7 linked regions of the Homo sapiens genome follow. The protein of the gene in region 6 interacts with the protein of the main gene of each other region in a biochemical or structural test. Each region holds a gene or a part of one and is shown on either strand. Other genes may lie near its edges.

Evidence for each region.
Region 1: the proteins of STX5 (region 6) and GOSR1 form a complex in vitro, tested with the Homo sapiens proteins (one study listed by BioGRID).
Region 2: the proteins of STX5 (region 6) and USO1 form a complex in vitro, tested with the Homo sapiens proteins (2 studies listed by BioGRID).
Region 3: the proteins of STX5 (region 6) and VAPB form a complex in vitro, tested with the Homo sapiens proteins (one study listed by BioGRID).
Region 4: the proteins of STX5 (region 6) and SNAP23 form a complex in vitro, tested with the Homo sapiens proteins (one study listed by BioGRID).
Region 5: the proteins of STX5 (region 6) and SNAP25 form a complex in vitro, tested with the Homo sapiens proteins (one study listed by BioGRID).
Region 7: the proteins of STX5 (region 6) and NAPA form a complex in vitro, tested with the Homo sapiens proteins (one study listed by BioGRID).

Annotation. Positions count from the first base shown.
Region 1 is NC_000017.11:30,487,408-30,490,907, forward strand, and holds part of GOSR1 (Golgi SNAP receptor complex member 1), read left to right. Parts: intron 1-2,718; coding exon 2,719-2,810; intron 2,811-3,500. UniProt on the Homo sapiens protein: Involved in transport from the ER to the Golgi apparatus as well as in intra-Golgi transport. It belongs to a super-family of proteins called t-SNAREs or soluble NSF (N-ethylmaleimide-sensitive factor) attachment protein receptor.
Region 2 is NC_000004.12:75,808,077-75,811,576, reverse strand, and holds part of USO1 (general vesicular transport factor p115), read right to left. Parts: intron 2,625-3,500; coding exon 2,526-2,624; intron 1,146-2,525; coding exon 1,038-1,145; intron 1-1,037. UniProt on the Homo sapiens protein: General vesicular transport factor required for intercisternal transport in the Golgi stack; it is required for transcytotic fusion and/or subsequent binding of the vesicles to the target membrane.
Region 3 is NC_000020.11:58,395,729-58,399,228, forward strand, and holds part of VAPB (vesicle-associated membrane protein-associated protein B/C), read left to right. Parts: intron 1-3,500. UniProt on the Homo sapiens protein: Endoplasmic reticulum (ER)-anchored protein that mediates the formation of contact sites between the ER and endosomes via interaction with FFAT motif-containing proteins such as STARD3 or WDR44.
Region 4 is NC_000015.10:42,502,134-42,505,633, reverse strand, and holds part of SNAP23 (synaptosomal-associated protein 23), read right to left. Parts: intron 1-3,500. UniProt on the Homo sapiens protein: Essential component of the high affinity receptor for the general membrane fusion machinery and an important regulator of transport vesicle docking and fusion.
Region 5 is NC_000020.11:10,295,330-10,298,829, forward strand, and holds part of SNAP25 (synaptosomal-associated protein 25), read left to right. Parts: intron 1-1,595; coding exon 1,596-1,721; coding exon of another isoform or gene 1,722-1,725; intron 1,726-3,500.
Region 6 is NC_000011.10:62,808,052-62,811,551, reverse strand, and holds part of STX5 (syntaxin-5), read left to right. Parts: intron 1-3,500. UniProt on the Homo sapiens protein: Mediates endoplasmic reticulum to Golgi transport.
Region 7 is NC_000019.10:47,498,064-47,501,563, reverse strand, and holds part of NAPA (alpha-soluble NSF attachment protein), read left to right. Parts: exon of another isoform or gene 1-107; intron 108-814; coding exon 815-931; intron 932-3,500. UniProt on the Homo sapiens protein: Required for vesicular transport between the endoplasmic reticulum and the Golgi apparatus. Together with GNA12 promotes CDH5 localization to plasma membrane.

The sequences.
Region 1 (3,500 bases), on a different chromosome or scaffold from region 6:
ACTGGAAACCATAACGAATGGCTAATTTGCTTACTACACAGAGATATAATAGAAATAAGAAAAAGACAGTAGGAAAATGGACAAAGGATATAAAATTGCTTACAAAAAAATGAATGGCCAAAACTATAAAAACATTTTCAGCAGTATTTCCAAATAAAAATACAGAAATCTAAAAGAGGTGATTTTTCACATGTCAGATTAGCAAATGTTGAAACATTTATAACCCATTATTGGCAAGAGTAAAAATTTAAAAAGGGTACTCATATATTGCTGGTGGGAACATAAATTGATGTAATGTTTATAGAAGGCAGTTTAGCACTACCAGAATTTAAATGAATGTGAGATTCTTTGATCCAGTTATTCTTTTTTTTTTTTCTTGAGACGGAGTCTCGCTCTGTTGTCCAGGCTGGAGTATTGGAGTGCAATGGTGCGATCTCGGCTCACTGCAGCCTCCACGTCCTGGGTTCAAGCGATTCTTCTGCCTCGGCCTCCCGAGTAGCAGGAACTACAGGTGTGCGCCACCACGCCCAGCTAATTTTTGTATTTTTAGTAGAGATGGGGTTTCATCATATTGATCAAGCTGGTCTTGAACTCCTGATGTCATGATCCACCCACCTCGGCCTCCCAAAGTGCTGGGATTACAGGCATGAGCCACCGTACCCAGCCCTGATCCAATTATTCTATTGCTAGTCATTTACTCCTTTTTTTTTTTTTTAAGCTCTGTTGAACTTAATAGACATTTACTCTTTAAATATACTTTTTTTTTTTTTTTTTTGAGACAGAGTCTCACTCTGTCACCCAGGCTGGAGTGCAGTGGCGCGGTCTTGGCTCACTGCAACCTCTGCCTCCCGGGTTCACACCATTCTCCTGCCTCAGCCTCCCGAGTAGCTGGGACTCCAGGCGCTCGCCACCATGCCCGGCTATTTTTTTGTATTTTTAGTAGAGATGGGGTTTCACCGTGTTAGCCAGGATGGTCTCCATCTCCTGACCTCATGATCCGCCTGCCTTGGCCTCCCAAAGTGTTGGGATTACAGGCGTGAGCCACTGCGCCCAGCCTAAATATAGTTTTTTTTAAAATAAAAGAGTTCAGTTTAAAAAATATATGTAAGAATGTTTATTGGCAGTATTTTTTTTTTTTTTTTTTGAAACAGAGTCTCGCTCTGTTGCCTAGGCTGGAGTGCTGTGGTATGATCTCAACTCACTGTAACCTCTGCCTCCCAAGTTCAAGTGATTCTCCTGCCTCAAACTCCTGAGCAAAGTAGCTGGGACTACAGGTGCGTTCCACCACACCGGCTAAGTTTTGTGTTTTTAGTAGAGACGGGGTTTCGCCATGTTGGCCAAGCTGGTCTCGAACTCCTGACCTCTAGTGATCCGCCCACCTCAGCCTCCCAAAGTGCTGGGATTACAGGCATGAGCCACCCTGCCTAGTCTTGCAGTATTTTTAATAGCAAACAAAATGAAAACAACTAATGTGTTTATCAGTAGGGAATTTATTAAATTGTGATAGTCATAAGATAATATTCTATGCAGCTATTAAAAAGAATGATGTAGATTTCTTTTTCCTAATATGGAAAGATTGCTTGATACTTTATGAAGTACAAAAAGCAAGGTGTACATCAGAATGTATATTATGACTTACTTGGCAAAGTGAAAGAAATAATAGATAAGCTTGTATATGTAAAAACATATTTCCTGGCCAGGTGCAGTGGCTCACGCCTGTAATCCCAGCATTTTGGGAGGCCAGTGTGGGTGGAACTGTTGAGGTCAGGAGTTCAAGACCAGCCTGGCCAACATGGTGAAACTCCATCTCTATTAAAAATACAAAAATTAGCTGGATGTAGTGGCACGCTCCTATAGTCCCAGTACTAGGGAGGCCAAGGCACTAGAATCGCTTGAACCCAGGAAGTGGTGTTTGCAGTGAGCTGAGATGGCACCACTATACTCCAGCCTGAGCGACAGAGCAAGACTCTTGTCTCCAAAAAAAAAGAAAATAATAATTTCCTGGAAGAAAATACAAAATGATGGTAACAGTTATGAGGTATGGAGCAGAATGTTTTGTTTTCCTTTGTTTCACCTTTATTTCTTTTGGTGCTCTTTTAATATTCTCCTCCATGTTTATGTGTTACTTTTGTTTTTTAAAAGGTCAACAGGGACTCTGGGAGACAAGATTTTGATTTTCTTCTTTATCTACATCTCTGAATTTATGAAAAGTAATGAAGTACTTTTAACAGTGGTACAAAAATAGTAGAAAATGTTTAAAGATTATTTTGTTCCTTATAATTCTCTTGATTCTGTTCTTTTTTGTTTAGGAATTAAATTTTTTGTGAGAGCTCCAAAATGATGAAATTTGAAAATAAGCTCTATTAAGTATACTACTAAGTAAAAAGAGCCTCTCAAGTTTTCTCCTAGACTATTTGAAGTTATTTTATCTCAGAATTTTTTTCTTCTTAATTCTGCCTCGTAAGACAGAGTACTAGGAGGTACAAAGGATAGTGATTTAATGGCACTGTTTCCCTAGCACTGAATTATTTTCACTTGAAAGAAGTTGGTCACTCTTCAGGAAAGTAATTTTAAAGTTATTTTTACCTTTGGTTAATTTGATTTCTTAAATAGCAGTTTTCTTGACAAATTTACAGTGTGATGACGATACATAACTGGTTCAGTGAGATGAAAATCCATAATTAGCTTCTGTTGAGACTGGATGTTGATTTATTACAGGATTATACACATGAATTCCATAAAACCAAAGCAAACTTTATGGCAATACGGGAAAGGGAGAATCTTATGGGATCAGTACGAAAAGATATTGAGTAAGTTACTTTTTATATTATTTTGTAGAATATTTATTCAGATTTGGCTTTAGGATATGTTCACGGTTAATTGCAAATTGAGTGGCAGAACCGTGGTTGAGATTTTAGGGTTTCCAATTCCCATTTCACTGTCTTTTTAACATTGCTGCTACAATGTCATCCTAATCTACTTTTCCATTTTTATCTCATGCTTCCTCTTACTTTATCATTGGCTCCTGCCAACCTTGACTTTCCTGTCTTAATTCAAAGTCCAGCTTAGGTGGTTCTTCATGGTTCTCTGATCTCTTACCTCCCACCCTAAGAATTATAATGTTACTTTTATGATCCTCTGCAGATGTGTCAAAGAAAAAAAAATTCTTTAATTGTAACATTATCAGTAACTGAAGCTCCCTATGTTTCTCTTCCTGATTATCACCTATCCCCTGGCCCTCTCCCTTGTCCCAACAGTTACATATTACAAACAGTAATATGTACAAACTCACTCATAGCCTTATGTTAAATTATTTAAGGACTCCCAACATTCTCATACTGATCTCAATCTATAATTTTAAATATTTGTTTTTTTCTTCTGTCCCTTCACCTCACCTTTAATGATCTATTCTAGCATTTCATAGCATTTTTGGAAATTTTTTTACAACTGAACACTACTGACAAAGTTAAGTCCCATGGGCGTCTCATTGAAGCTGAAGA
Region 2 (3,500 bases), on a different chromosome or scaffold from region 6:
ATTTAATGTGCCTATGTTCCACGGCTTATGGAAAGCCTACATGTGGCTTGTGTATTAGCTAAATTTGTACTCCTTGTTTTGTTATTGTGATTAGATGTTGATCTTAAAAAGAAAACACAGGCCGGGTGTGGTGGCTCACGCCTGTAATCCCAGCACTTTGGGGGGGGCCAATGCGGGCAGATCACCTGAGGTCAGGAGTTTGAGACCAGCCTGGCCAACATGGCGAATCCTCGTCTCTACTAAAAGTACAAAAATTAGCTGAGCATGTTGGCAGGTGCCTGAAATCCCAGCTACTCAGGAGGCTGAGGCAGGAGAATCGCTTGAATCTGGGAGGTGGAGGCTGCAGTGAGCTGAGATCATGCCACTGCACTCCATCCAGCCTGGAACACAAAATTGAGACTCTCTCTCAAAAAAAAAAAGAAAAAGAAAGAAAGAAAACAAAAATATTTTCAATAAATTTTACTTTTATAGTACATGCATATGTATGCTTATCTTACATATTATCATTATTTGAAATAGTATTTTAAAAGCTTCATTTGTGGCTGGGTGCGGCAGCTCACACCTGTAATTCCAGCATTCCAGCACTTTGGGAGGCCAAGGCAGGTGGATCACGAGGTCAAGAGATGGAGACCATCCTGGCCAACGTGGTGAAACCCTGTCTGTACTAAAAATACAAAAATTAGCTGGGTGTGGTGGTGCACGCCTGTAGTCCCAGCTACTCAGTAGGTTGAGGCGGGAGAATTGCTTGAACCTGGGAGGCAGAGGTTGTGGTGAGCCGAGATCGCGCCACTGTACTCCAGTCTGGTGACAGAGCGAAACTCCATCTCAAAAAAACAAAACAAAACAAAAAAACCCAAAACAAAAAAAATTTTCATTTGTGCCATCTTAAATCATCAATATAGGAGTGAAAATGTTGTGAGATAAAATTACACATCATTAGCTTTCTTCATAAATCTAAGAATTTGAAAGATATATAAAATTTCCTAGAGTTCATTTCATATCATATGCAGTAAATAAAAGTTGCACCAAAAACAAACCTTTAACTCTTTGGTCTCTTGTAATAATGCTGACAGTCTTCCTTCTACATCAGTAGTTTTGGTGGCTATTATAGTCTCGGTCTCTCCTTGTACCTCAACTGATTTTGCCTGAAATTAGAAATTGGAAAAAAAGATGTCTCTTAAACATTACAATCAATATGAACTCCCAAAGGGTTATTTAATTTTTTTGCCATTTTGATATTTTACTTTCACTAACAGAAAATATAATTCCTTATGTATTTATGTGCAACAAAGTGCTCTCCACTGTCAGATGAGCTGTTCCCACATGGAAGAGCATCAAATCTCATAAGAGTACGAGGAAGGCTGGGCTAAGGTGCCTCAAGGTAGGTAAGCCCAGAAAAGTAATCAGCAAGGCAGCTCTAATGTAACTGTAACCCAGCATTTAATAAACACAGAATATTTTTCAAAGCCTTTCCTTCATAAATTTCCTATAAGTCCATACTACCACCCTAGATAGGTAGATAAATTGAGCCAAATATCATTATTAGTGAAATGCAAATCTTTTCTCAAGTGCTAGAGGAGACACTCCTGAATAACAGTTTTTCAGTCTTTCCTTGTCTTTTTTCTAAAATACTAGGAAGTCGGGTAGTGACACAACAAATATCTAAAAATGTGGAAGTAGCTTTGGAACTGTGTAATGAGTAGAGGCTGTAAGAGAGGTGCATGGTAGACAAAGCCTGCATTACCTTGATGAGACTGTTGCTAGAGATATGGACATTAAGTGATTCTGGTGAGAGCTCAGAAAGAAAAGAGCGGAGTTGGAAAGAAGCTTCATGGTCATAGTGAGAAGAAGAATGCTGGCAGAAATATGAATGTTAAAGGTGCTTTTGGTGAGGTCTCAGATGAAAACTAGGAACATGTTACTGGGAATCGGAGGAAAGGCAATCCTTGTTATAAAGTGGCAAATAACTTGGCCAAATAGTGTTGCAGTGTTTTGTGGACAGCAGAACTTGTAAATAATGAATTTGGATATTTTACTGAGGTTTCTAAGCAAAGTGTTGGAGTGCAGCCTGGTTTCTCCTTGTTGCTTAAAGTTAAATGTGAGAGAAGAGAGATAAATTGAAGAAGAAATTGCTAAGCAAAAAAGAATCAGAATTAGAAGATTTGGAAAATTCTCAGTCTACCTATATTGCAAAAGTATGAGAAGGAATGTTCTGGAGAAAACAACAACGGTTTCTGAATATTTTATGACAGCAGAAAAACTGCCAGCTTGGACTGAAGGGACAGAAATAGAATGTAATACCAGCAAAATAAACTATTAAGTAACTGAATAAACTAATCTGGTGAGACTGACTATAAAACGACTGTCACCATGAACATGAAGCCTATGTTACTAGAATACCGGCTAGTAAGTAATCTAAAGAGAAGGTGCTATCTGATGAATTTGTTTCTTTTTAATTGTGGCTAAGAAATAATACATCAACCTTGTCTTTATTACCTTCCAGAGAAAAAAGAGAAAATACTTACAAACGCTTCTGTTTTCTGTAACAGTTCCTGCTTTTCTGTCTGTAGTTTGGTGATCTCCACAGATTGTGAGTTTAACTGAGACTTTAAAGTTGCCAGTTCCTAAGAGACAAAAATAGTTGAGTCATAACATTAAATGGTATTAAATTCATCAAGGAAATATTTACAGGGAGACATTTAAAAAAATGATTTACAACCTCCTACTTTTAAAATCTAACTCTAAAGAACTATTCTTGAATTTTGGGTTCAAGATGGAAAATTCAACACATTCATTTACCTCTGCTCCCTCCTGAAATCCCATGCAAAAAAAAAAAATCATAAAAGACAGGAAGGGAGGGGAGAAGGAAGAAAGAAAGGAAGGATGGGAGGGAGAGAGGAAGAAACCTACAAAAACAAGAACAGTAAGAGAAGAGAGCAATATAATTGGGGAATTTTGAGAAAGCAAGTAACAGTGATAACTAAATCAGCACACCTGAGAAAGCTGAAAGCTAGGATGACCACTGAGAAAGTTAAGATAGTACCTGACTTACAATGAATGCATTAACTACCAGAAAGGTTAGGAACTGGTATCATTAGATACCACTGGAAGTACAGATAAAAATGAGGTTAAAAACTGCAGGCCTGGTTAAAAGACTATTTAAGAAATAGATCATCAGATCCCTGTCTCAATCTTAGGCATCAGGCAACCGTTCCTCCTTTCCTGGATGAAGACTTGAGGTTTATTATGTGGCTGGGCAAAACAGGACATCTTTAGACTAGGGACCACCAAACACAGATGAAAGCAGTAGTACTATAATGAAAACCAGGGTATTAATTGAAAGTTTTTATTAATGTTGAATTTCCAAACTTCTCACCTTCTCCTCCCCCAAAAAAAGTACAGGAAAAGAAAGGCAATTATAACAATGGCTCTCAGCAGGAGTGATTTCTCCCCATATCCCCCCATCCCCGAGGACATTTGGTAATGTCTGGAGACACTGA
Region 3 (3,500 bases), on a different chromosome or scaffold from region 6:
TCAGGCTGTTATCAGCATAGCATATCCAGGATTGCTTTGGCCTTGCTCAGTGGGTATGTGCGTTCTTTGAAGTTCTTACCTGACAGATGTGGGCAGCTGGCTTTACACAAGGAAGAGTTGTTTAAAGAGCTTTGGTATGGAAACAAAGTTACTAAACTTGACAGTCACTTGAGGATTATTTAAAAAACAAACAAAATAACTGAATGTGGTAAAATACTATCTCTAGAATATTTTTCAAACTGTTAAATGCATCCTTTTAACAGAAGCTGTTGATGTCTACAAACACTGTCTTTGTAGACAAAGACAAACCCCCCTTGCATGGGGGTTTGGGGGTTGGGAAGCAGTTGAGAAAATGGCATAGTCCCGTGAGAAAACCTTGGAATACTTTCTTTTAATAACATTTTTTTATTGCATAGAACTGTAAAGCTACAGAAATGCTTTCTTGGAGTTTTCCTTCATCCTTTCAGAAGGGCTAATATTGACCTTTGGTTAGCATGTTAGTATTTTCACCTGTGTCAAGTGATGTCTTCACGCTTTTGGGGGGTGTGTGTGTGCATGCCCACCTCGTGTTGTGTAGGGCACATTGGCCGATACCTATAATGTGTTTCAATTACTACATTGTTGGCATTTCAGTAGGCTCCTTCAGCCTTTGCCCATCTGGGAAGTGGAGACTAGGGCAATAAATGTTTTAGGGGTAGATTGAGACTGCAGTGTTTTTCATCTTTTAGCTTGTACTTTAAGACAATGGGATGTACCCCTAGACCATTTACCTAGATTTAAATTACTTCCTTGTGATGTGGTTTAGAGCTCTAAGTTCCTTGAGTTGTCTTGAAAGGCTGAAGGGTGCTCAGAGAATGGAGGGGAATTGAAAATGGAACCTAAGGATCTGGGAGTGGTCATATGTGTGAGTGGTGAAATGTGCCCCCCAACACCCCGTTGGGTCGGGTCTGGAGTTAAAAGCAGTGGCTGACATACATTTTGCAATATAAGGGTAAAGAAAGGTAAAGAAGGAACAAACATTTCTAGAGGATAAATGCTTTAATTCCAGAAGATAGGCCACACAGTTTAGGAACTGTGGTAAGAGGTGCTTTGCCATATTTATGTTACTGTTTAATCTGTGTAACAATCGTATGAGATGACTTAGTCAGTGGCTAGGTAACTTTCTGCTGGATGAGGCTGCACTAGTAAATGGTGGCACAGGCAAAGCCTTGTACTTTCCCTCATACCAGTATCAGCTCATTAGAGTTAACTCATAAAGGGGTTTGTTCTTGAGAGAGGGAGGCAGAGAATTTAAAACCATTAATGAAGTATTAATAGCTGTCAGGACAATTTCTTAAGAACATCAATTCATTAAGAGTTATTCTCTGAATTTTTTAGGAGGGATTTCTTGCCCTACTTTTGAAAAAGTTCAGACAGATGACTCCAAAGAATGTTTGATTTCTCTTGTGAATATTCACTTTTATATCAGATTCTGATGGTTTCTTGATTCTATATATTTAGAAAGCATTCGGCCGGGCATGGTGGCTCATGCCTGTAATCCCAGCACGTTGGGAGGCTGAGGCAGGCAGATCAACTGAGGTCAGGAGTTCGAGACCAGCCTGACCAACATGGAGAAACCCCATCTCTACTAAAAATACAAAATTAGCCGGGCATGGTAGCGCATGCCTGTAATCCCAGCTACTTGGGAGGCTGAGGCAGGAGAATCGCTTGAACCTGGAAGACGGAGGTTGCGGTGAGCCGAGATCCCGCCATCGCACTCCAGCCTGGGCAACAAGAGCAAAACTCTGTCTCAAAAAAAAAAAAAAACAAAACACATTAACTTGTGGGTAATTTGTCCTTCTGCTATCCAGTCTTTGGAAGGCAGGGCAAAGCTTGTGTGTGGTAGAGATTTCATAGGCTTGCAGGTTTGTAGAGTGGGAATTCAAGAAGTTGTAAAGGGCACTTATTAAGATAGGAATGTCTAAAATAAATGATCTTTAGCAGTGCCACCTTAAACTTTGTAAGTGTTGCTACAAAACCTTTAGTTCTGCATGCTCCTGACCAGCCATTGCCTTGGACAGAGAAACAAATAAGGGTGAGTTAATAAACTAGAGACTTGTCTCAATTGTTCAAAGAGGTAAACTTAAGGTGATTAAAAAGTGCTGTTTTATTCTGTATGAGATACACTTTGGGAAGTCGTCATTTTCCAAGACGATGATACGCCAGGCATACGAATTGGATCAGAAAGGATTTAGAGACATGCATGGATATAATGATCTCTTACAGATGTTCCTCACCTTACAGCGGAGTTACATCCTCAGAAACCCATTGTCAGTTGAAAATATTATAAGTTGAAAACATATTAGATACAGCTTAACCTACCCAACATCATAGCCTTGTCTACCTTAAACATACTCAGAACCCTTAAGTTAGCCTCCAGTTGCACAAAGTCATCTAGCACAAAGCCTATTGTATGATAAAGTATTGAATATCTCATGTACTGCATATTACTAGCCTGGGAAGAGATCAAAATTCAAAATATGTCAAAATTATGATGGCTTCACACCATTGTAAAATTGAAAAATCGCAAGTCAAACCAATCGGGGATTGTCTGTACATAAGAGATGATTGTCCAAATTAGAGCTGTTTTGGGTTTCTGCCCTTTGCAGATCCTTTGAGGTTTTCTTTATAGACAGATGACTCCTTCTGGGGGAATTGAGCGTGACTCTGATTGAGATTTGGTTCAGTTACCACATACTGAAAGCTTCCTGTGGGCCAGGCACTAGGTTGCACTGGGGACCTGGGAGGAAGGCCTAGCCCTTAAAGTTTCCAGCCTCTAGGTATTGGGAGACGAGGGAAAATGGGGACAAGATATTTATGGCCTGTCCTTATTGAGAGCTTAGAAAAAGCTGTGTTAATTCTGCTTTGGGTGTTCGATCTCACAGGGAAGATGGCATTTGAGATATGTGACTTGGCGAGCTTACACTGTGCGCTTGCCATTTTTCTAAGCGTTCATTTATTTAATTCTTAATGCAAGCCTAGGAAGTGGGTACAGTTATGATCCTGAAGTTATTAACCCAAGTTATGAACCTGACTGAGGGTTGGAGCTGGGATTTGAATCAAGATCTGTCTGATTGCAAAGGCTATGGCTTTTTTTTTTTTTGTCGTCATGCTGGCTGTGTTTCTTCCCTTAAAAGATAAGTGGGAGTGTGCCCTTGGCTTTCTTATTTATTATGTTAGGAAGATGAGAGGAGGAGTGAGACTAGAGAAAGAGGCTTGAAAGAGAAATGGGATAGAAAAATAAAGGAAAAGGCTGGGCACAGTGGCTCACACCTGTAATCCCAGCACTTTGGGAGTCTGAGGTGGGTGGATCACCTGAGGTCAGGAGTTCGAGACCAGCGTGACCAACATAGTGAAACCCCATCTCTACTAAAAATACAAAAGTTAGCCGGGCGTGGTGGTGCATGCCTGTAATCCAGGTACTGGGGAGGCTGAGGCAGGAGAACCGCTTCAGCTGGGGA
Region 4 (3,500 bases), on a different chromosome or scaffold from region 6:
CAGTGAGCCGAGATCATGCCACTGTACTTCAGCCTGGGCAACAGCAAGACTCCGTCTCAAAAAAAAAAAAAAAAAATGCAAGCAGAAAGGAAGTAAAAGAAAAGAGAAGAAAAGAAGAAAGGAAAAGTAAATGAGCTTCTTGGAAAGAAATACACAGAAAAAAGGCCCTGGAATTTAAATAAGGCCTTGGAAGATCCATGTGGCTTCATTTGTAAAACTGGTGAGCTACTCAAGAAGTAATGAAGAAAGAGCACTTTAAATCACCATCAGGCCAGGCGTGGTGGCTCATGCCTGTAATCCCAGCACTGTGGGAGGCAGAGGTGGGCGGATCACTTGAGGCCAGTAGTTCAAGACCAGACTGCCCAATACGGTGAAACCCCAGCTCTACTAAAAAGAAAACACAAAAATTAGCCGAGTGCAGTAGTGCACGTCTGTGGCTTGAGCCTGGGAGGCAGAGGCTGCAGTGAGCCAAGACTCACTGCACTCCAGCCTGGGCAACAGAGCAAGACTGTCTGAAAAAAAAAGAAAAAAAAAATCACCATCAATTTCACAGGGTCTTGCAAAGAATGATTTTATAAGATAATTCTTTTTATACTGGTAAACAAGGATTTTGCAGCTAAAATATTCTACCAAATTAGTTTCCTGCCTTATTCCTTCTCTGAAAATTAATCACAATAAAGCTCCTCAATGAGTTACACTCAAAGGGTTTATTACTGTACTTTTAAGTTCAGCATTCTCTTTGGCTTGATAGAAGTCTACGTCCATGGTAACCAATGCATCCGCAGCAAGAGGAAACTTCTGTTTATAGCAGGATAGCATAGTGGGTGAGTGGGAATTCCAGCATATAAATTCCAGCCTCACAATGTATTTGTTGTGTGACCCCAAGTTAATTACCTAACACCACTAAAACTCGGTTTCTGTATTTGTAAAACAAGGATAACATTCTATTTTATAGTTTTGTTTTTTTTGTGAAGATTAAAAAGAGATGATCTACACAAAGTACTTAGTACAATGCCTTGCACATGGCCGGTGTTCAATGTTAGCCATTATATTAATATTTTTACTGAAGTGGAAATAAATAGTAGGCAAAACAAAAGGAAAGTAACAATGTTGAATATGAGTCACATTTATGTAAATGTAGCTGAAAGTAATAGCTACTAAATATTAATAGTTCCATCTGCAAGGCTAAATTTGAATATTAAAGTTGATGATATAAAGTATAGGCTATATACAACTTTTTTTTTGAGACAGAGTCTCACTTTTTATTTTATTTTATTTTACTTTATTTTATTTGAGACGGAGTCTCGCTCTGTTGCCCAGGCTGGAGTGCAGTGGTGCAATCTTAGGTCACTGCAACCTCTGCCCCAGGGTTCAAGTGATTCTCCTTCCCCAGTCTCCCGAGTAGCTGGGATTACAGGTGCCCACCACTACACCTGGCCCTTTTATTATATTATTATTTTTTTTTTTGTAGAGGCAGGGTCTCACTATGTTGCCCAGGCTGGTCTCAAACTCCTGGCCTCAAGTGATGCTCCTGGCTCAGCCTCCCAAAGTGCTGGGATTACATGTATGAGCCACTTTGCCTGGCAAGGGTCTCCTTTATGTTAAGGATGGCTTCCTCCTTTTACTTCCTCTCTGGGCTTTCCTTTCTATCTCCTTCTACACAAACAACTTTAACCATTTTTATATATAGGCCCCAAAACTATGCAAATATACATACATATTTTTTTCTCTTTTTAAAAACTCTTTTCTTTTTACCATACAAAGTCTATAACTCAAATGCAAATATACTAAGTACATCACAGAATCGTATCTACTAAACAGCTTGGTTTCAGGCCAGGCGCAGTGGCTCACATTTGTAATCCCAGCACTTTGGGAGGCCAAGGTGGGTGGATCACCTGAGGTCAGGAGTTTGAGACCAGACTGGCCAACATGGAAAAACCCCGTCTCTACTAAAAAATACCAAAGGCCGGGTATGGTGGCTCACGCCTGTAATCCTAGCACTTTGGGAGGCTGAGGAGGGCAGATCACTTGAGGTCATGGGTTCGAGACCAGCCTGGCCAACACGGCAAAACCCCGTCTCTACTAAAAATACAAAAATTAGCTGGGCGTGGTGGCATGTGCCTGTAATCCTAGCTACTTGGGAGGCTGAGGCAGGAAAATCACTTGAACCCAGGAGGCAGAGGTTGCAGTGAGTCGAGATTGTGCCACTGTACTCCAGCCTGGGCAACGGAGTGAGACACCATCTCAAAAAAAAAAAAAAAAAAATTAGCCAGGCGTGGTGGCGGGCACCTGTAATCCCAGCTACTCAGGAGGCTAAGGCAGGAGAATCACTTGAACCCGGGAGGCGGAGGTTGCAGTTAGCCGAGATCGCACCGCTGCACTCCAGCCTCAGCGACAGAGCGAGACTCCATCTTAAAAAACAACACGAAAAAACAAAACAAACAAAAATCAGCTTGGTTTCAAAGTACACTGAAGCACAAGATTCAAGACAGAAATCATATTAACAAATGGGAAAGTCCCACTAAAAATCAGGAACCAAAAAGAAAACCAAAATTACATTTTCAGGCCTATAGTCCCAGCTACTCAGGAAGCTGAGGCAGGAGGATCACCTGAGCCCAGGAGTTTAAATGTAACCTGGGCAACATAGCAAGACCCTGACTCTAATTACAAAAAAAATTAAACTTCAGTTTTACAGAAGCACCTATGGTAACTTAATTGCTTGATGTCCAACGCCTGGTCTTCAAGTCCCTGTCAAATTAGGAACTTCCACAATTCTACTCTAAGTGACCCAGGAGTAATACTGGGGAGGTAGATGTAGGTTTGATTGTAATCAATTTTATTAACCCTATCAATGAGAATGGTTATGTGAACAGAAAGGGGACGTTCTATGTGAAAGATAAGAACGGGGCTCAAGAGCCAGAAGCTGGCAATCTACCCAGGAAGAGACAATGTGGCAGGCATAAGTGTGGTATCTGCCAGGGAGATACCAAGTACGGGGTGAGATTAATTGGCAAGGATTCACCCTGCCTGAATGAAATATTCACCGAAACCATCCACATAGTTTAGCTCTGATTAAGTTCACTTAGATGCTTTATTTATTTATTTATTTATTTAGGTAGATATAGGGTGGCTCACTATGTTGCCCAGGCTGGTCTTGAACTCCTGGCCTCAAGCAATCCTTCTGTCTTGGACTCCCAAAATGCCAGAAGGCGTGAGACACCACACCCAGCCACTTTGATGCTTTCTGGTTAGTTTTTCAAATATTCCGATATTAAGAGTCAGAAGCTACAGACAGCGAATATAAGCACTCTGCCGGGCGCAGTGGCTCATGCCTGTAATCCCAGCACTTTGGGAGGCTGAGGCAGGCGGATCACGAGGTCAGGAGATCGAGACCATCCTGGCTAACAAGGTGAAACCGTCTCTACTAAAAAACAGAAAATTAGCCGGGCGTGGTAGTGGGCGCCTGTAGTCCCAGCTACTCAGGAGGCTGAGGCAGGAGA
Region 5 (3,500 bases), on a different chromosome or scaffold from region 6:
CATAGCAGAAAACATCACAAAGTCCATATAACTTCTTTTAATCTGAGGAGGGAGGAGATGGGGAGTTGGAAAAATAAAAATTAAAAAAGCCAGACTCTAAGCCCTATTAAATTTAGTTTGGGGATCTCGTTTCATTGAATGGGTCCATGGCCCTTTGGTGCAATTAATTTTGACTGCACTAAGGCCTGCGGCATTATAGACTTGATTGTGGGAGTTGCTGAAATTCCATTGGTACAATTTTCCAGTTTGTCTCTAGGGTTGCTTGGCCCCCAGTCTGCAAGTATTAGAGCCAGTTTTAATAGATGGCTGTGGTCCTCTGGCGAAAGAAGAAGATAAAATGTTAAATTCTGGTGTCTTACAAAAAAAAATGTGAAAATGGGACCAAAGAATGTCTCTTGTTTTTGGACTAAAAAGCATATGGTTTCTACTATGTAAAGAACCTAAAAACATCTTTGATTGCCTTTAATTACAACACTCACCAAAATATGCTGCACATGTTTCTATTGGGCACAATAGGTATGCCTGGATTTTAAGTCTTTTCTCCAAGGCAGCTCAGTGAAATACAGCCCATGGAGACCATACCAGCATTAAACCACTCTCCTCCATTACAACCCCAGGATAGTTTAAACTAGGAGTTTGTAAGCACTCTCTGCCCTGCCCCTCAGCCCAACAAAGAAGCTACTGAACCTGCGTTTCAAATCCTCATGAAGGCTATTACTGTCCTGCTAGTGCCTTTTTCGAGAATGGTCAACTTCTGGAGTAGTTTGGCTTAAATGAGAATGCTTCACTTTCTACTCATGCCTGTAGCTGGTGCATGAAGAAGACGTAGAGGGGTTTCCCTTTTTGGTGCTAGATGGCTTGTTCTCTCTTCTCTTTTCCTGCATTCATTTCACTATGCTTCTTTTACTTTTTGTCTCTGTGGACAAAGGTTTGTACATCAACTCTGGATGTATGGTGACTGTTTGGAAGTACCGATATATTATCTAATTCAAATCACTCTAGAGGCAATGCAAAGACCATCACTCTTGGCCAACCACCAATCCTTTATGTCCTTCATGGAGCTTTGGAAATGTTAGTTCCACACGTGTTGGGAAAAAAAAATATTCCACAGGGATCTTTGCATGATGGTGTGTAAAAACTTGGTTGAGGATGTTTTCTTGATGACAGTGTGTTGCTGTGGTGTGATGTGCACACTCTACTTGGCAGTCTTGTTTTGTGTCTGTCTGCCAGTATGTTTTTCTCTGTTTTATGTCTCCAAATATAATCACATCACTAAAATAGAATTAAATGTCCTCCAGCTACCTTAATCCTTGTCCAAAATCCAAACTAAACCACAAAACAAACCAAAACAAGAACAACCTTGTGGGCAAAGATTGCAGTCCATTGCAATGGATTCGATTGGAAGTGAAATGTTGAGTAGCTGAGGCATGGTGGTGGCCAACTGTTTGGGTCTGGATTATGATATATCGGTATTATCTAATGCCTCGACTTAAAACTCATTCGCTTGGTTCGATTCTTCGCTTGAAGAAGTGACAATTGTTGAGAGCTTGCTCCTCCACCCCTGTGCCTTGTCACTCACCCTCTCTTTTGCATAGGCTTAAATCAAGTGATGCTTACAAAAAAGCCTGGGGCAATAATCAGGACGGAGTGGTGGCCAGCCAGCCTGCTCGTGTAGTGGACGAACGGGAGCAGATGGCCATCAGTGGCGGCTTCATCCGCAGGTGAGCCTCATGCAGCATACACTGTAGCAGTTCTCTATTGTCAAGTACAAACAACTCCAAAACTGAGTGGTTTTCTAAAAAACAACCATTTTATTGCTCATTAATCTACATACCTGCTAAGTGTTCTTTTCTAAGCCTTTCCTGGACCTTGCCTGGGTGGGGTGATCCAAGATGGCCCCATTCACTTGTCTGGTGGTTGGCTGGGGCTGTTGGTGGGGCATGTCTGTTCTTCTCCATGTGGCCTCTTCAGCAAGAGAGCCCAGGTTCCTTACATGGTGGTAGCAGTATTCCAAGGGGGCAAGCCTCAGTGCACTTACCAAACCTTTGCTTGCTTACCTTGTATTTGCCGGTTTCATTAGACAAAGCAAGTCACATGACCACATCCAGACTCAATGTGGCAGTAGACAGGCATCACATTCCATGAGTTTAATTGAATAGAGCTTATAAAAGAGACTACTTACAGAGGGGTGGGCAGGACTAATAACAAGGAATGGTGAAGCACTTCTGAGCTAGCAATAGCAGGAAGTTGTTACCACCATAGTCCTGGGGGACAGGAGAAGGAATGATTATCAGAACCCAGCAATAGTTACGACTGTGGGCAAGGAACTATCAGTAGAGAAATACAGCCACTACCAAAGCTAACAGGGAGTGAAAGAGGGAAATAAATGCTGTAGCCCCTCACTCCTCTTGCCCTGCAGTTTCATTGGCCATTAGCCAAAGCCTACTGAAAGCCAGAGGGTAAGAGGAGCTGGGTGATATAGTCATGAGGTCAGCTCCTGAGAGCACAGAGCAAAGAAGGTCCAAGAACGGATTTGGAGTGAAAATAGAGAATAATGAGCTTCTTATTAATGATTTATTTTGAAACCTAGAATCAAAAGCCAATTTAAATATCTATTTTTAAAAGTTCAAATTATGACTCAGGGGCATTTCCTTTAAAAAAAAAAAAAACTCAAGTTACACACATCAGCCAATTCAGAACTCAGCTCTCCCTTTGCTCCCAGGGAAAGTAGCCCAAGGGTTCTCAAGCCTGGCTGTACATTAGAATCACCAGGGGAGACTTTTTTTTCTTTTACTACCAGTGTTTGGGCCCAATCCACACCAATTGAACCAGAATCTCTTGAAGTGAGACACAAGCACCTGTGGCCCATTAAAGCTCCTCAGGTGATTCTGATATGCACTCAGGGCCAAGCACCATTGAACTAGAAGTATCTCTTAGCTATTGATGATCATTTAAATAAACTTCTTCCCTACAGGAAAAAGCCAGAAAGTTCTCCTTTAGTTTTTTAATTTTCTCTGCCCTGGGCTGCTTTTGAAACCATAATGAGCCAGTCTGCATTGGGAGTTACCATGGGGGAAGGATTTTAACCCTTCTGAATATTTTTTAGCTCAATACCATATATACTAGGGAAATTCTGAAATAAGTACCTCCTTAACTTTCAAGTTGGACTGTGAAAAAATGTAATGTGTTTTGTGAGCCAGCTCCTTCCTCCCATTCCCATTCCACTCAACCTGAAACAATACTCTTTTGTCACAGTTTCACAGTTTTTGACTCTGAAATCACCTATGCACCATGCCACTAAAAAACCCATGTTATTAACATATGAGTAAATAAAAATCATCTTGAACAAGTAGCTCTCCTTGGAGTTCCTGGGAGCAAGCAGGGTTAAGGGGCAAACTGTAATTATCATTACTCTTCCCATTGGTGTCAATCCCAAGTGTGAAAAGAGATGAGCACAGAGACTCTGACTTAGCACAATAAGCTTTTTATTGTATTCTTAA
Region 6 (3,500 bases):
AAGGAGAAGCTGTTCCATGTGAGGAAAAAACAGCACAGAAATGAGAAAGAACTTGGTAGATACAGGAGTGCAGAATTATTCAGCATGGCTGGGGGAGTGGTGAGAGGCAAGGCCAGGTCACAGATAACCTGTGTGTCACAGCAAGAAATTTGGTGTCAGGGAGAGAACATAAGAAGAAGCAAGCGGATTGATGCTGGGTGAGAATTAGGTTTGTTCTGGGTGTGCTGAGTGCCTCAGACTTCATGGGACAGCTAAATGACAGAGTTTAGTAGGCATTTCATGTTCTGATGTTTGGAAGAGAAGGCAGTGCTAGAGGTAAGGACTTAGGACAGTGGCCTCTTGGTGAAACCCTGGGCATAGACCACCCAGAGACTGGGTAAAGTGAAAAAAAGGTCAGGACAGATCCCCCATGGAGTCAGGGGGTATGTAGAGAAGGGAAGAATCTGGCCAGACTGAGGAGGAAGGTTGAGGAAGATGAGAGAAGAAAGCAGAGAGAGAAATGTGTCCTTAGAACTTGGGATAGAAGAATTTTAAGGAGTGGTTATTTCTCCTTGCTCCTGAGAAAGAAAGTTCGAGGTAAGGATGTGTTTGAGTCAGGAGGGGCTTGAATTAATTGGATCAGTGCCAGTATTTTCAGTGGAATGGCTCAGTAGCAATTTTACAGTATGTTGGAGCATAAAAGAAATAAGGAAGTAGAATTTATGGGCAACCATATACAAAATAAATTTATGAAAGGATGCCATCTTTAAAATAGGTGTAGACATTCATATGCTTCCTCCCTGCATGCCAGTGGATCTGGGTTTCAGCACTTGCTCTAGAAACCACTGATTAAGTCTGAAGTTTTTTGGGATGCAGATTCTTGGGCCCCAACCTAGAATTTCTGGTTGTGACACTTGAGAATTTTTATATTTGAGAATTCAACAGGTGATTCTTATTTTTCCTAAGGTGTGAAAACCACTGATCTAATGTTGCTCAGTCATTTTCCTTTTCACCTCATAAAATATTCAAACTACAGAAAAGTTGGGAGGATAGCACAATAAACACTCATATTCCCTTCACCTGTAGTCACTAACTTTTTTTGTTTTCATATTTGTTTTTTTCTTTTCTTTTGAGACAAGGTGACACTCTGTCACTCAGGCTATAGTGCAGTAGCGCAATAATGGCTCACTGCAGCCTCAAACTCCTGGGCACAAGTGATCCCCCCACCTCAGCCTCCCCAGTAGCTGGGATAACAGGTACATGCCACCATGTCCAGCTAATTTTTAAATTTTTTTGTAGAGACAGAGTCTCCTATATTCCCCAGGCTGTTCTTGAACTCCTGAACTCAAGCAATCCAGCCACCTTGGCTTCCCAAAGTGCTGGGATTACAGGCGTTGGCCAGATCTGGCCACCAATTGTTAACATTTTGTCACTTTTTTTCTTTTTCTTTCTTTTTTTTTTTTTTTTTTGAGATGGAGTCTTGCTCTGTCACCCAGGTTGGAGTGCAGTGGTGCGAGATCTCAGCTCACTGCAATCTCCGCCTCCCGGGTTCAAGTGGTTCTCCTGCCTCAGCCTCCTGAGTAGCTGGGGTTACAGGTGCACGTCACCACATCCAGCTAATTTTTGTATTTTTAGTAGAGACAGGTTTTCACTATGTTGGTCAGGCGGGTCTCAAACCCCTGAACTTGTGATCCGCCCACCTCAGCCTCCCAGAGTGCTGGGATTATCGGCGTGAGCCACCACATTCAGCCTTTCCCCTCTTTCTTTTGCCGAATTATTTGAAAGTAGGTGCAAATTTCATGCTGTTTTATTCCTAGATACTACAGCATGCTAATAATAAGGCATTCTCCTGAACAGCCATAATGTCTTTTTTTTTTTTTTTTTTTTTTTTTTTTTTTTGAGACAGAGTCTTGCTCTGTTTCCCAGGCTGGAGTGCAATGGTGCGATCTCCACTCACTGCAAGCTCTGCCTCCCAGGTTCACACCATTCTCCTGCCTCAGCCTCCTGAGTAGCTGGGACTACAGGCGCCCGCCACCACGCCTGGCTAATTTTTTGTATTTTTAGTAGAGACGGGGTTTCACCGTGTTAGCCAGGATGGTCTCCATCTCCTGACCTCGTGATGCACCCACCTCGGCCTCCCAAAGTGCTGGGATTACAGGTGTGAGCCACCACGCCCTGCCCATAATGTCATTTTCAAACTAAGAAAATTAACAGTTCTCCAACATGATCCAGTAATCAGCCCATGTTCAAGTTTCCCCATCTGATTTTTTTTTTTTTTTTTTTTTGAGACGGAGTCTCGCTCTGTCACCCAGGCTGGAGTGCAGTGGCACGATCTCGGCTCACTGCAAGCTCCACCTCCTGGGTTCAAGCCATTCTCCTGCCTCAGCCTCCCGAATAGCCGGGACTACAGGTGCCCGCCACCATGCCCGGCTAATTTTTTGTATTTTTAGTAGAGACAGTGTTTCACCATGTTAGCCTGAATGGTCTCAATCTCCTGACTTCGTGATCGGCCTGCCTCGGCCTCCCAAAGTGCTGGGATTACAGGTGTGAGCCACCATGTCCGGCCCCCATTTGATATTTAAAACAAAAGTTTTTATCTTTTTTCTTTCAATTTAAGACCCAGGAAGATTCACATTTTGTATTTGATGTGTGTCTTCAGTGGGCCTTTTGTTTTATTTTTCATGACATCAACTTGTTTTGTTCAATGTTAAATTAAATCTAACACTGATTAAATTAGTGCTGCGATGATTACATTAGTAGGCACTTGATGAGGTTATCCCTTTTATTGCTGATGTCAATTTAATCACTTGTTCAAGGTGCTAACTATCAGATTAAGCACACTCATCCCTTGGTATTGTGGGGCATTGGCTCCAAGAGCCCCAGAGGAAACCAAAATCCATGCATCCGCAAGTCCCATAAAATCTTGTCATATTTGCATGTAATCTACTCACATCCTCCAATATACTTATTTATTATTATTTTTTTAGTAGAGACAAGTGTCTTACCATGTTGTTCAAGCTGGTCTCCAACTCCTAGGCTCAAGTGATCCTCCTGCCTGGGCCTACCAAAGTGCTGGGATTACAGCCTGGCCAAAACTAGGGTCCATATACCTTTTTTTTTGGTGTTTTTTTTTTTTTTTCCCCCTGAGGCAGTCTTGCTATGTCACCCATGCTGGAGTGCAGTGGCACAATCTCACTGCAGCATCAAGCTCCTCAACCTCCTGGGTTCAAGCTATCCTCCCACCTCAGCCTCCCGAGTAGCTGGGACTGTAGGGTCACACCAGCACACCCAGCTAATTTTTGTATTTTTTGCAGAGATGGGGTTTTGCCATGTTGCCTAGGCTGGTCTCAAACTCGTGAGCTCAAGCCATCTGCCCACCTCAGCCTCCCAAAGTGCTGGGATTACTGGCCTGAGCCACCATGGTTGGCCATAGAGCTTTTTTTATCCCCTGATTTCCTGTCCGTGTCATTATGTTTTCCTTTTTCACTCAGAACCATGATTTCCTGACTGCAATGGTCTGT
Region 7 (3,500 bases), on a different chromosome or scaffold from region 6:
CTGTTTCCCTCTCTGGACATGCAGCTCCTGGAGGGAGCCGGCTCTGTGTTGTCCGACCCCAACTCCATGAGCCTCACAATTCATGCAAGTGCCTTGTCCATGGGGATCTGCAGTGAAGGGAACAGAATGTGAACAGAGGCAGAGGAGTTGGGAGAATCAGGAAGAGCTTTGGGGAGCTGTGGAAAAAGAAACAGGACTTGGAAAGGGGAGTAGATGGGAAGATGTTATGTGGTTTAATCTCAGTTGCCCCTTGCTTCCCAAAATACCCCTCCGAAGCCACCCCATGATTTCAGCCTGTACTTTGCCTTCTAGTGGTGGTTCTGGGCCCTGTGCTTCGAGGCTCCCCTGGGGAGGACTGCCCAGGCCGGGAGGTGCAGGAGGCCACCTCACTCTGTTTTATATCCTTTCCAACTCAGCTCTATCTGCCTTCTCCTTGGATCTTTAGAAGTGGTGGCCCTGGAAATGCTGGCATAGCTGGGATTAGGGACATGGTGTTTTACCTGGGCTTACCCTGGCTCTCTTTCCATATACCTGGGGCTCAGGGCCTTCCCCCGAGGCAGCTTCCTGCCGCCCTCAGAGACTGTCAGGTGGGCCACCAGGAGCCTCAGCGCAGGAGCCAGCAGACCTGAGCGCAGGAGCCAGGAGACCTGAGTTCTAGGCCTCGGTCTGGGCTCGCTCAGGTCACCCTCGTCCTGTCTTGGGGACTCTTTCCGCATTCTCGAGAGCCCGACCCACCTCCCAGGGCAGTGTCTCTGTGGCTTCATAAAGTGTGGAGCCCCACTGAGGCCAGGACTGCCCTTCTCTTCTGTTCCAGCTGCTGGAAACGCGTTCTGCCAGGCTGCACAGCTGCACCTGCAGCTCCAGAGCAAGCACGACGCAGCCACCTGCTTTGTGGACGCTGGCAACGCATTCAAGAAAGCCGACCCCCAAGGTGAGGGCCTCTGCGGGCCACACGGGCTGGCTGTCCGGAGCGCCATCCTAGCACCCTGCATTGATTCCTCAGGTTTCCTGGCGGCTCTGGTTTTTCCAGTGGCCGACATGTGATAGGCTGGCAGGGGCGTGCCTGAGGCAGAGTGAGCGTTGACTTTAGAACTGGCTCTCTTCCTTCCAGTTGGCATTCGCGCCCTGCTCAAGTCTCCGCCCCCCTATCTACCGTGTCGGTGGTGTCGGTGCAGCTGATCACCCCTTCCCAATCCCGGAGCATTTGGGAGTGGGAGTTCCATTGCAGACCCACCGCCTGCCGGGGAGAGAGGAAAATCTGTTCTGTTGTCAGAATTAACATGCAGAAGGGAGCGGTGTGGGGGGCGGGGAGGATTCTGAGACCAGCCAGGTAGGAGTTGCTGCCGAAAAAGGAGCGGAAATTAGCCCAACCTGGCTTCCCTACATCCTGGGGAGGAATTAGAGAGAACAGAGCCCGAGATGTAGTTGCCAGAGAACAAATTACTTAAAATGAGAGCGTGCTAGGGACAGAAACCCAGTTTGGGGCTGACTCATGGTGAGAAAACAGTTTTGTCCCCCTGGGTGCCTCCCGAAGAGGAGGTCCAGCCCAGTGTTTGCTTGCATGTGGCGGGAATTTTAATTTATTTTTTAAAATGTTGGTGCCAGGTACAGGTTGCTAATTAGAAAGCACAGGCAGTTTTTAAAAATGACCATCTATTGTCACTGTCATCTCAGGGGAATGGAAAATATATGAATCTTTAAAAAATAAAAAGCAGCTATATAATCTTGGAATAAAAGCCTGTCCTTCCCAAGAGAAGACAGGTTTGCAGCAGTGCAGGGAGCTTCCTCCATGGATCAGTGAGCACTGGTTCACATGGCGTGTTTGAGAACTGCTGGCATACCCCTTTGTCGTGATCTGACGTGTTAGTTCCCAGATGAGGATGAATTTGTGTTGACCAGTAGCTCTTCTCTGTCCTTAGACTGACCAGTTGCTCCTCAGCAGCTGGGCATCTCATGCGTTGGCCTCAGTGGTCACATGGTGGGGCTCAGGCCTGGCAAGAGGCCGAGGAGCAGCCTTGTAACTGGGTGGGCCATGGGGCTTGCCTGGCTGGTAGCACTGGGCCACAGCAGGCTGCGTGGTTGATGCAGTGATGACCCAGGGAGACCCTGGGTTGGTTTTAAGCTTGATTCACCACATGGAGTCTCCATGCCTTCCATTAAACTGCCCCGCCAAGCCTTTCCTTCTGCTCCCTGGGAAACTGGTTGGCCTAGAGGTGCTGTCTTAGCATCTGTGACGTTCAGCTGCTGCCCCATCTGGAGTGACTGGAAGGACACTCTGGGGCAACACTGAGCGCCAGGCTGCCGAACAGAGAGTGCCATTTGCTCTTTCAGCAGACCCCTCACTTCCTGCAGACAGGCCCTGCCTGGCAGTGGGATATGGTGGGGTCCCTCCCCTGCGTTTGATCTGAGCTTTTCTAGCTCTCCAGCGAGACTCTGCAGGGTGTGGGCCTGGAGTCTGGATGTGGCCCCTCCCTGGCCTTAGGAAGCTCAGAAGGTGGCTGAGGACTCCGACCGGTAGGAAAGTATAAAGATGATGTTACATCCAGGGCACAGAGGCCAACTTGCACAGAGCTGAGGCTGGGGGCGTGAATTTGGCTATGGGAGATCTTTCAAGGAAGAAAGGGGGCAGTTCTGAAAGGAGAGCCTCACCTGGGTAGAGCTGAGAGCAGGTGCCGTGTCCAGAGCCCTGGGGACGTGGTGTTGAGCAGGGAAGGGTGTTAGTGCAGCTTCCAGAGCTACAGCCTAAAGATACGCACGCCAGCCATGACTCCCAGTGGGGCAAGGGGCACATTGGCATCAAGGGCAGTGGCTGCTTTGTGTCTGAGGCTAGTCAGGCCTCACACAAGGCCAGGTGCAGTGGCTCATGCCTGTAATTTCAGTGCTTTGGGAGGCTGAGGCAGGAGGATCGCTCAAGCCCAGGAGTTCAAGACCAGTCTGGACAACATAGTGAGATCCTGTCCCCAAAAAAAAGCCTCACAGAGAATGTCATGTAGCAACTGTGTGTGGCTCAGCAGCGCAGGTGGTGGGTGGTCTGGGAGGACCCTGCCTCCCCTGTGATCCTGGGCAAGTCAGTCTTTTGGGCCTCTGTTTCCTCGTCTGTTAAAGCAGAGACTGCTGTGAGATGATGCAGTCATGCCCAGCGCGGCACCTGGTGTGTGATAAACTTCCAGTCAGGACACCCTTGGCTTTCATCAGTCCAGGGGCCCCTGCCTGCCCTGGGCTCCCCACAGCCTCTGCCCTTGGCCGGGTGCCTTGTGAGACAGCGCTGGAGGCCCGATTTGGAACCTTGCCTGGCTTCCCCAAGCAGGTGGCCGGTACCCTGGGGCCGTCCTCATCACTGGTCTCCTCAGCAGCCTAGAAGGCCTCTGTCTTGGGTCAGCACTTCTAGGGCTTCCTCCAGGACTCCCTCCAGAAGGACCTGCCCCCAAGTGGCAGCTGGAGTGTGCCTGAGGCCCGACTGGGCTCCCGAATTCCTCTCCCTCTCGCAGAGGGTGGCCTGC